Linked DNA regions of Homo sapiens: region 1 is linked to region 2. Evidence: fine-mapped expression QTL. A gene starts in region 2. The other region holds a variant in brackets. All regions are shown on one strand. Distances are between the middles of the regions. Region 1 has its middle 30 kb from the start of PABPC4-AS1. Region 2 holds the start of OXCT2 (3-oxoacid CoA-transferase 2).

Region 1 (5,486 bases), 240 kb before region 2:
AAAACTCAATAAACTAGGAGTGGAAGGGGGAACTTTCTCAATCTGATAAAAGGTATCAACAGAAAACTACATGTGAAAGACAAGATGCTTTCCCCCTAAGGTCAGGAACAAGACGAGGATATCTGCCCTTGACACTTCTATTCAACATTGTACTGAAGGTTCTAGCCAGGGTAATTAGGTGAAAAAAATGAAATGAAAGGCATCCAATCGGCAAGGAAAATGTAAAGCTATTTCTATTTGCAGATGACACACTCTTGCATATAGAAAATCCTAAAAAATCCACAAAAAAAACTATTAGAACTAATAAACAGGCCGGGCATGGTGGCTCACGCCTGTAACCCCAGCACTTTGGGAGGCCAAGGTGCGCGGATCACAAGGTCAGGAAATTGAGACCATCCTGGCTAACACGGTGAAACCCCATCTCTACTAAAAATACAAAAAATTAGCCAGGCGTGGTGGCGGGCGCCTGTAGTCCCAGCTACTCAGGAGGCTGAGGCAGGAAAATGGCGTGAACCTGGGAGGTGGAGGTTGCAGTGAGCTGAGATCGTGCCACCGCACTCCAGCCTGGGCGACAGAGTGAGACTCCATCTCAAAAAAAGAAAAAAAAAAGAACTATTAAACAAGTTTAGCAATGTTGCAGAATACAAAATCAATATACAATTGATTATATATATTTTTGTAGAGATGAGGTCTCATTATGTTGACTCGGGCTGGTCTCAGACTCCTGGACTCAAGTGATTTTCCCACTTCAGTCTCCCAACGTGCTGGGATTATGAGTGTGAACCACCATGCCTGGCCTGTTTTGTGGTTTTCAAAGTATAAGCTGTATACATCTTTTAAACTTATTCCTAAATATTTTATTCTTTTTTATGCTATTGTAAGTATAATTGTTTTTCTTTTTATTCTGTTTTCAGGTTGTTCATTGCTGATGTATAGAAATATAATTGCTATATCTACGGCCAGGCACGGTGGCTCACACCCGTAATCCCAACACTTTGGGAGGCCGAGGCGGGCAGATCACAAGGTCAGGAGATCGAGACCATCCTGGCTAACATGGTGAAACCCTATCTCTACTAAAAATACAAAAAATTAGCTCGGCGTGGTGGCGGGCGCCTGTAGTCCCAGCTACTCAGGAGGCTGAGGCAGGAGAATGGCGTGGACCCGGGAGGTGGAGCTTGCAGTGAGCTGAGATGCTGCCACTGCACTCCAGCCTGGGCGACATAGCAAGACTCTGTCTCAAAAATAAGAAAAGAAATATAATTGCTATATATATATGTGTGTGTATTTTTTTTAGAAGAGTCTTGCTCTGTTGTCCAGGCTGGAGTGCAATGGTGCAGTCACAGCTGTCTACAAAAATATTTTTTAAAATTAGCCAGGTGTGGTGGTGTGTGCCTATAGTTCCAACTAGTTGTAAAGCTGAAACATAAGGACCACTTGGGTACAGGAGTTCCAAGACTGTGGTGAGCTGTGATTGCACCACTGCACTCCAGCCTGGGCAATACAGTGAGACCCTGTCTAAAAAAAAAAAAAAAAGAATGAGAGAAACTATTTGCAAATTATACATCTGATAAGAGACCTGTATCTAAAATATTTAAAGAATTCTGACTCGCTAGGCATGGTGGCTTACATCTATAATCCCAGCATTTTGGGAGGACAAGGTGGCAGGATTGCTTGAGCCCTGGAGTTCGAGACCAGCCTAGATAACATAGCAAGACCCCATCCCAATTAAAAAAAAAAAAAAAAGAAAACCAAAGAACATTACTGAAAAACACTGAAGAAGACCTAAACAAATGAAAAGATATCCTGTGTTCATGGATCAGAAGACTTAATATTGTTAAGATGATGATACTCCTAAATTCTTCACATTCAGTGCAATCTGTATTAAAATCCTAGCTGGCTTTTTTCATACGAGTTGATAAGCTTATCCCAAAATTCTTAAGAAATGTAAGAGACTCAGGATAACCAAAACAATCTTGAAAGGAAAAACAAAGTTGGAGGACTCGCATTTCCAGAATTAAAAATTTACTACAAAGCTATGGAATTTAAGACACAGTAGTAATGGCCTAATAACAGACATACAGATCAACAAAATATAATTTAGAATCCAGAAGAAACCCTTACATTTATGGTCAACTATATTCACCAAGGATACCAAGACAATTAAACAGGAAAAAAACTAGCCTTTTCAACAAATGGTGCTAGGACGACTGAAAATCCACATGTAAAAGAGTAACGCTGGACCACTTTCCTCACACTATACACAAAAATTAACTTCAAATGGAGTAAAGACTTCAGTGTAAGAGAGAAAACCATAAAATACTTAATAGAAAGTGTAGGAGTAAATCTTCATAATCACTACACCAAAAGTACAAGTGACAAAAAAAGATAAATTAGACTTTATCAAAATTAAAATATTTTGTGCTTCAAACGACGCCATCAAAAAAGTGAAAAGACAACCTATAGAATGAAAGAAAAGGC[C/T]GGGCGCAGTGGCTCACGCCTGTAATCCCAGTACTTTGGGAGGCTGAGGCGGGTGGATCACTTGAGGCTAGGAGTTTGGGACCAGCCTGGGGAACGAAGTGAGAGCCCCATCTCTACAAAAAATAAGAAAAAATTAGCCAGGCATTGTGGTGCATGCCTGTAGTTCCAGCTACTTAGGAGTCTGAGACAGAGGGATCACTTGAGCCCAGGAATTTGAGGCCACAGCAAGCTGTGACTGTGCCACTGCACTCCAGTCTGGTCAACAGAGCAAGACCCCGTCACTACAAAAATAAAAAAAGAAGGACTCTTGACTATATTTGGTCAGGTGTGGTGACTCATGCCTATAATCCCAGCACTTTGAGAAGTGAAGGCAGGCGGATCACTTGAGGCAAGCCTGGGCAACACAGGGAGACCCTGTCTCTACAAAAAATAAAATTAGCTGGGCCTGGTGGCATGCACCTGTAGTCCCAGCTACTTGAAAGGCTGAGACAGGTGGATCACTTGGGCCCAGAGGGTCAAGGCTGCAGTGAGCTGTGATCACATCACTGCACTCCAGGCTGGGTGACAGAGTGAGAACCTGTCTCAAAAAACAAAAAACAAAAGAATTCTTACTCAACAATAGAAAGACAAATAATCCAATTAAAAATTGGTAAAGGGTCTGAAGAGACATTTTTCCAAAGAAGATATAGAGAAGGCCAATAAACACATGAAAAGATGCTCAACATCATTAACTAGCACGGAAATGCCAATCAAAACCACAATGAGATACCACTTCACATCACTAGGATAGGTCTAATAAAAAAAGAAGGATAATCACAAGTGTTGGTGAGGGTATAGAGGCATCAGAAACATCATACACTGCCGTTAAGAATGCAAAATGGGGCAGTGGCTCATGCCTGTAATCCCAGCACGTTGGGAGGCCAAGGCGGGCGGATCACAAGGTCAGGAGATCAAGACCATCCTGGCTAACACGGTGAAACCATGTCTCTACTAAAAATACAAAAAAATTAGCCAGGCGTGGTGGTAGGCGCCTGTAGTCCCAGCTACTCGGGAGGCTGAGGCAGGAGAATGGCGTGAACCCGGGAGGCGGAGCTTGCAGTGGGCTGAGATTGCGCCACTGCACTCCAGCCTGGGCAACAGAGTGAGACTCCATCTCAAAAAAAAAAAAAGAATGCAAAATGGTACAGCCACTTCAAACAGTCTGGTCGTTTCTCAAAACATTAAAAATAGTTATCAGCCAGACACGGTGGCTCATGCCTGTAATCTCAGCACTTTGTGCAGATCACTTGAGGCCAGGAATTCGAGACCAGCTGGCCATCATGGCAAAGCTCCGTCTCTACTAAAAATACAAAAATTAGCCGAGTATGGAGGTGCATGCCTGTAATCCTAGCTAGGGGAGGCTGAGGCAGGAGAATCTCTTGAACCAGGGAGGTGGAGGTTGCAGTGAGCCGAGATTGTGCCACTGCACTCTAGAGTGAAATTCTGTCTCAAAAAAAAATAAATAAATAGTTATATAACCCAGCATTTCCAATTCTATGGCTACATCTAAGAGAAATGAAAACATATGTCTACACAAAAATTTGTATGTGAATGTTCACAGTGGCATTATTTGTAATAGCCAAAAAGTAGAAACAATCTATCAACTTATGAATGGATAAACAAATGTGGGGTGCAGACAGTGGGTATTAATTGGCAATAAAAAGGAATGATGGGGCCGGAGGCGGTGGCTCACGCCTGTAATCCCAACATTTTGGGAGGCCAAGGTGGGCAGATCACGAGGTCAGGAGATCGAGACCATCCTGGCTAACACGGTGAAACCCCATCTCTACTAAAAATACAAAAAATTAGCCAGGCGTGGTGGCGGGTGCCTGTGGTCCCAGCTGGGAGGCTGAGGCAGGAGAATGGTGTGAACCCAGGAGGCGGAGCTTGCAGTGAGCCGAGACTGCACCACTGCAATCCAGCCTGGGTGACAAAGTGAGACTCCATCTCAAAAAAAAAAAAAAAAAAAAAAACCAAAAACCAAAACAAAAAGAAAAAAAAGGAATGATGTACTGATACATGCTACAACATGGATGAACCTTGAAAACATTATGCTAAGTGAAAGAAGACACTCACAAAAGCCTACATATTGTATGATTCCACTTATATTAAATGCCTAGAATGGGAAAATCCATAAAGACAGAAAGTAAATTCGGGTTTCCCAGGGCAGGGGACCAACAGGATAAGTAGCAACTGCTAAAGGGTATGAAGTTTCCTTTTGGGGGATAAAATGTTCTAAAATTATTTGTGGTGATGGTTGCACAACTCTGTGAATACATTAAAAACCATTAAAATGTGTACTTTAAGTGGGCAAACTGGATGGTATGTAAATAATATCCTACTAAAGCCGTTAAAAAAAAAAGATAATTACACTACAAAATGGCAAAGCCCAGTGACAGAGACATTTGTGCATAGAATGGGAGCACTAGAGTCACCTAAGTGTTTGTGAAAAAGAGAAACAGATACTCACACAAACACTCATCATGAAGGCTTTCTGAAGGAGGTGATGTCTGAGTTCAGTCTAAAAGGCCTGGGGCCAGGCACCGTGGCTCACGCCTGTAATCCCAGCACTTTGGCAGGCCAAGGCAGGAGGATCACTTGAGTCCAGGAATACAAGACCAGCCTGGGCAACAGAGAAAAATCCCATCTCTACAAAAAATTTAAAACTAGCCAGGTGTGGTGGCATGTATCTATAAGTCCCAGCTACTTGGGAGGCTGAGGCAGGAGGATTGCTTGAGCCCAGGAGGTTGAGGCTGCAAGTGAGCCAAGATCATGTCACAGCACTCCAGCTTGGGAGACAGAGCAAGACTCTGCCTCAACAACAACAAAACAAACAAATAAAAAGCCTGGGTTTGCCAGGGGACTAGGGGGCGTAGGATAAGGAGCTACATCTCGTTGTGGCAATAAGAAACCCCCCTCTTCATGGCTGGGCCTCTAGACTGGGTACGCCCTTCATATGAGGACCATGT
Region 2 (5,249 bases):
AAACCCTATCTCTACTGTTAAAAATATATATACAAAAATTAGCTAGGCATGGTGGCACATGCCTGTAATCCCAGCTACTTGAGAGGCTGAGACATGAGAATTGCTTGAACCCAGGAAGCAGGGGTTGCAGTGAGCTGAGACTGGACCACTGTACTCTAGCCTAGGTAACAGAGCGAGATTCTGTCTAAAAAAGAAAAAAAATTACAGTAAGCTAAGGTTAATTGGCCCAACTCAGTGGCTCATGTCTGTAATCCCAGCACTTTGGGAGGCTGAGGCAAGTGGATCGCTTGAGCTCAAGTGTCCAAGACCAGCCTGGGCAACATGGTGAAACTCCATTTCTATAAATAAATTTAAAAAATAAAAAAAAATAAGCAGGCATTGTGATGTGCGCCTGTAGTCCCAGCTACTCAGGAGGCTGAATTAGGATTGCTTGAGCCCAGGAGGCAGAGGTTGCAGTGAGATCACTGCATTCCATTGCATTCCAGCCTGAGCGACAGAGCCAGACCCTGCCTCAAAAAAAAGAAAAAAGAAAGAGAAGGAAAAAGAAAAAACAAGCTCGTGAAGATAGCATGTCTTCCAATCACAAACTCACATCTTTGCTCGCCTATTTCTCACTGCAGTAGTAAAATGTCCCTTCAGGTGTACTCTGGGTTGAGTGATTTTCTCCCTCGTCAGTTTTTATCTCCATTTCATGGTTCAAGTACGAGGGAGGCGCTTGAATCAAATCTTGCTGTGAATGCACTGAGCTGTGCACGCTCTGTGTAAACATCACAGAGCAAAGCGGACATCCATTCCTCACCACTGCAGACCTGCGCCTTGCAGTGCTCGAGAAACACAGTGAGGAACTGATCTGTTTTCCTGTTGTTTTTAATTAAAGTCGCAGCTCTCTAGAGGAGCACTGTCCACCTAGGGAGGAAAGTAGGAGGCCAGTAGCAAACCCCTCCCAGAGCTGGGGACATGTATTCCCCTGGGGAACCCGGTGGCACCCGCCCTGAGGAGCGCACCACCCCGCCCAGATCCAGGTCCCGTCAGGGTGCCACCTGCTGCATGGGCCTGAGGTTCGGGGACACAGCAAAGGCACACCCCGTGCTCTTTTTGATGTCGTCCACCGTCAGGCCCTCCCAGAGCTCCCTCAGCGTCAGCTCTTTCTTCCTGTGCACGTCAAACACGGCCTTCTCGGTGATGATGCGGTCCACGCACCGCTTCCCGGTCAGCGGCATGGTGCATTTCTCCATGATCTTGGGGGTGTTGTCCTTTGTGCAGTGCTGCATGGTGACCACCACTCTGGTCTTCTGACTGGACACCAAGTCCATGGCACCGCCCATGCCTTTCACCTTCTTGCCAGGGATCATCCAGTTCGCCAGGTCGCCGTATTTGGAAACCTGCATGGCTCCAAGCATGGTTAGTTGGATGTGTCCCCCTCGGATCATGGCGAAGGAGTCGTCGCTGGCGAAGAAGCAGCCCCCGGGAAGCACCGTGACCGTCTGCTTGCCTGCATTGATGAGGTCGGCATCCACCTCATCTTCCGTGGGAAACGGGCCCAGGCCCAGGATCCCGTTCTCACTGTGAAGATGGACAGTCATGCTGGGACTGATGAAGTTGCTGGCCAGCAGGGGGATGCCTATGCCCAGATTGGCGTACATGCCGTCCTCAAATTCCAGAGCTGCGCGTCTGATGATGCGCGTCCTGGCGTCCTCTTCCTTTCCAGCGTCTCCATCTTCCTCTTTCAGGATCGTTAAGCGCTCAATTCGTTTCTCGTATTTCTGCCCCTTTATCACGCGATCTACATAAATGTTAGGAACGTGGATGTCTTCTGGGGGGAAAGCCCCCACCTCCACGATCTCTTCCACCTCCACCGCCGTGACGTCTGCAGCTTTGCACATGGGCACGTTGAAATTGCGGGCGCTTCTCCTGAAGACCACGTTTCCTGCCCGGTCGGCCTTCCACCCTTTCACCAGGGCGAAGTCTGCCCGGATGGCGCGCTCCAAAAGGAAGTGGTCGCCGTTGAACTCCCTCACCTCTCGGGGCTGGCTCATGAGCGCCAGGTGGCCGTCCGGGGTGTAGCGGATGGGGGCGCCCCCTTCCTGGACCAGGGTCCCGTAGCCCGTGGGGGTGTAGAAGGCGGGCACCCCGGCGCCCCCCGCGCGGATGCGCTCGGCCAGGGTGCCCTGGGGCGTGAGCTCCAGCTCCAGCTCTCCTGCCAGGTACTGGCTCTCGCACAGGGTGTTCTCGCCCACGTAGGAACAGACGATGCGACGGACCTGCCTGGCGGCCAGCAGGAGGCCCAGGCCGAAGTCCTCCACGCCCACGTTGCTGCTGACCACCTGCAGGTCTTTCACGCGGGTCCTGAGCAGCGCGGCGATCAGGTTCTCGGGGATCCCGCAGAGCCCGAAGCCCCCGATCATGACGGTCGCCCCGTCAGAGATGTCCTTCACCATCTCCACCGGGTCCGCGTAGAACTTGGCACGGAGCCGGGGACTGGTGGCAAAGCAGCGGGCGCAGCCCTGGGACAGCGCGAGCCCTGAGCCGCCGGCGGGGACCCCGCGCCCGAGCACTGACGCCAGGAGCCGCAGCGCCGCCATAGTCGGCCCGGGTCGGAGGCCAGGACAGGTGGTGTGAGCCCTGCGTGCGCCTCGGGCCGCGCGTCACAGAGCAGGGCGGGCGCCCGCGCCCTGACGCACTCCCTCCCAGCAGGTCTCCCCGGCCAGGCGCAGGCTCTAGGCTAGGCCCGCGACCCGCAACAGGGAGGGGGCCGGCTCCGCCCTGGGCTGGGGGCCCCCGAGTCAGTCCTCCGTGTCCAGCGCACAGGCCCGGGCGCAGGACAGAGCTGAGGTCAGGCTCCGCGAGAAGGGCACAGGCTAGGTCCCCTCCTGCCCCAGTGGAGCCTCAGACACAAACTCCAACCACCCCGCCCAAGCTTCCCCCCAGCTTCCCCAGCTCATTAAAGACACCAAGTGTCCAATGAGCAGGCGCCGCTGGGTGACACCGACGCTCATGAACACCTTCACTGGGCATCACTCTGTGCCAAGCACCCTCCTTTAATCCTGTGACAACCCGGAGAGTGAGTGCCTGCCCCACTACAGCCTCCCAGAGCTCAGGTTCACCCCTCACTGCGACAGTGGGGACAGTATCCCTCACCTCCATCAGGAAGGGTCCCTGCTCTGAAGAGGCCCCCCGTCTTGTCCTCTGCATCCCCCCGCCCTCTCCACCTCCCCCACTCCAGCTCCCTGCTCCAACTTGTGCGGAATTTTGCAGTTTTCTTCCCTCTGCACAGAATCACTGCATCACCACAGCAGCGTGCAGGCGTCTCCTCACCTGGAAAGGACCTGCCTTGTCCCGGGTTCTCTCCAGCCCCAGCCCATGTCTCTGCTCCCCTTCCCCAGCAAAGGTTCTGGAAAGAGCTGTCTCCTGCCTCCACTGCCTGTCTCCCTCCACCTCCTCAGTCAGACCCACACTCCACGGATATTTAGGTCATCAACAACCTCTGTGATGGCAAAACCCTTGGTCACTTCTCTGTTCTTGCCTTCAGTGCCCACAGCAGGACACAAATGACAAACCCTTGCTTCTGGAAACACTTTACTCTGGCGTCTAGATCACCTCATCCTCCAGGTGTCCTGCTCCCTCCCTGGCTGGTCTCTGTGGGCTCTCTGTGGCCCCTCCTTGTGAGGTCTCTGGATGTTGGAGGTCCCAGGGCTCTGGGCCAGGCCCTCTTTCTTCTCCATCACTACCCTCCTTCCCTAGATGACCTGGTCCCATCCCATGCTTTAAATCCACTTACATGCCAGCACCTCCCTCGCCTGGGTCTTCACACTCACCGGTCCCTGTAATGGCATTTCCATGAGGACCAGTGATCTCAGTAACATCCCAGGGGGGTCAGTAATATTCCAGCCAAAAGAGAACCCTTGGCCACCCACCTCAAACCTGCCCTTCATCTATCTTTTCCCCAAAAAGAAAAATCTATTGAAAAAAATCCACTGGCTCCAACCACACATCATTCAGGCTTCCTCCTGTTCCCTCACCTCCTCGCCAGCTATAAGCATGTCCTGACACTGAAATCGACTCATCTTTCTCCATCTCCACTGCTACCAACAAGTCGCTCACAGCGCCCACCTGGACCACTGTGGGGCCCCCACACGTCTCTCTGACTTCACTCTTGTCCATCTCAGTCTGCTCTCTCCACTGAAGTCAGGGGGTTCTTTATTTTATGCATATATTAAGTTTTAATTTTACAACAGTTGATAGTTACATAAAACTTTGTAAAGATAGTACAGAGGCTAAGGTGGGAGGATCGCTCGCGCCCAGGAGTTGGAGGTTACCGTCAGCTGTGATTGCGCCACTGCACTCCAGCCTGAGCAACAGAGCCAAACCCTGTCTCAAAGAAAAAAAAACTACACAAGGAGTTCCCATACACCTGGACCCAGTTTCCTCTGGGAAATGCTAATATTTTACACTAGCAGGGTACCTTTCTCATAACTAATGAACCAATACTGATACCTTATTATTAAGTAAACACCATGATCGATCTGGATTTCATAACTTCTCCCTAATGACCTTTTGCTGGTCCAGGACTCAACCCAGGACCCCACATGCACTGAGCTGGTCTTCTTAGGTGCCTCTGGGCTCCTCCAATTTCCCAACCTTCCCTTTTTTTTGATGAGCTTGGCGGTTTTGAGAAGCGCTTGTCAGGTATTCTGCGGAAAGCCCTTCTCTTTGGGTTTGTTTGACGGTTTTCTCGTGGCTGGACTGGGGTTTTGGGTTCACGGAGGGGGCCCTCTGAGGCTCAGTGGCCTTCTCCTTCCCTTTCACCCAGGGCACATGCTAGCACCGTGCCGGTCACTGCAGTGAGCCTTCCTCACCTGGCTGAGGCGCTGCGCGTCAGGTCCCCCACGCCCTGTCCACACCGCACTTTCGGGAAGCAAGTCACTGGGTGCAGCCCACGGAAGGGGTGGGGAGCTCTGCTCCACCCCGAGAGGGGGGCATCTCAGAGGGTTCTCTTTTAAAACCTGAATCAGATCCTGTCGTCCTCCACTGCTAGTAAATAAAATAAATGACGCTAAGAACCCCAGCACCTGGCCCTGGTTTACTCTGACTCAGAATGGCCCCTGGGTCCCCCGCCCTCACCGCTGCTCCATGGCGCCCCCTTGCCGGGCCTCAAACACACCCATCTCGTGCCCACTTTGGCCTCTGTATTCCTACTGCCTGGCATAAAAGAGGCTCTCCCCAGTGTCACCTGTGGAATGAACAAGGGC

What was found. PIP is the estimated chance that this variant, and not a neighbour inherited with it, causes the effect.
Region 1: its variant is fine-mapped to the expression of OXCT2 in esophagus muscle (GTEx, PIP above 0.99).

What each region holds. Positions count from the first base shown.
Region 1 is chr1:39,532,204-39,537,689 of GRCh38, forward strand. It overlaps the pseudogene PPIEL. Among named protein-coding and RNA genes, the nearest start is that of PABPC4-AS1, 30 kb to the right of the region's middle. The variant C/T (reference allele first, on the strand shown) is at 2,479.
Region 2 is chr1:39,768,674-39,773,922 of GRCh38, forward strand. It overlaps OXCT2 (3-oxoacid CoA-transferase 2), which reads right to left and starts at 2,675. Exons shown (of 1, transcript NM_022120.2): 1 at 850-2,675. The coding sequence starts at 2,582. The coding sequence ends at 1,029. All of the region lies in intron 3 of BMP8B (bone morphogenetic protein 8b), which reads right to left. RefSeq lists enhancers at 2,048-2,721, 2,722-3,394 and a silencer at 2,608-2,707.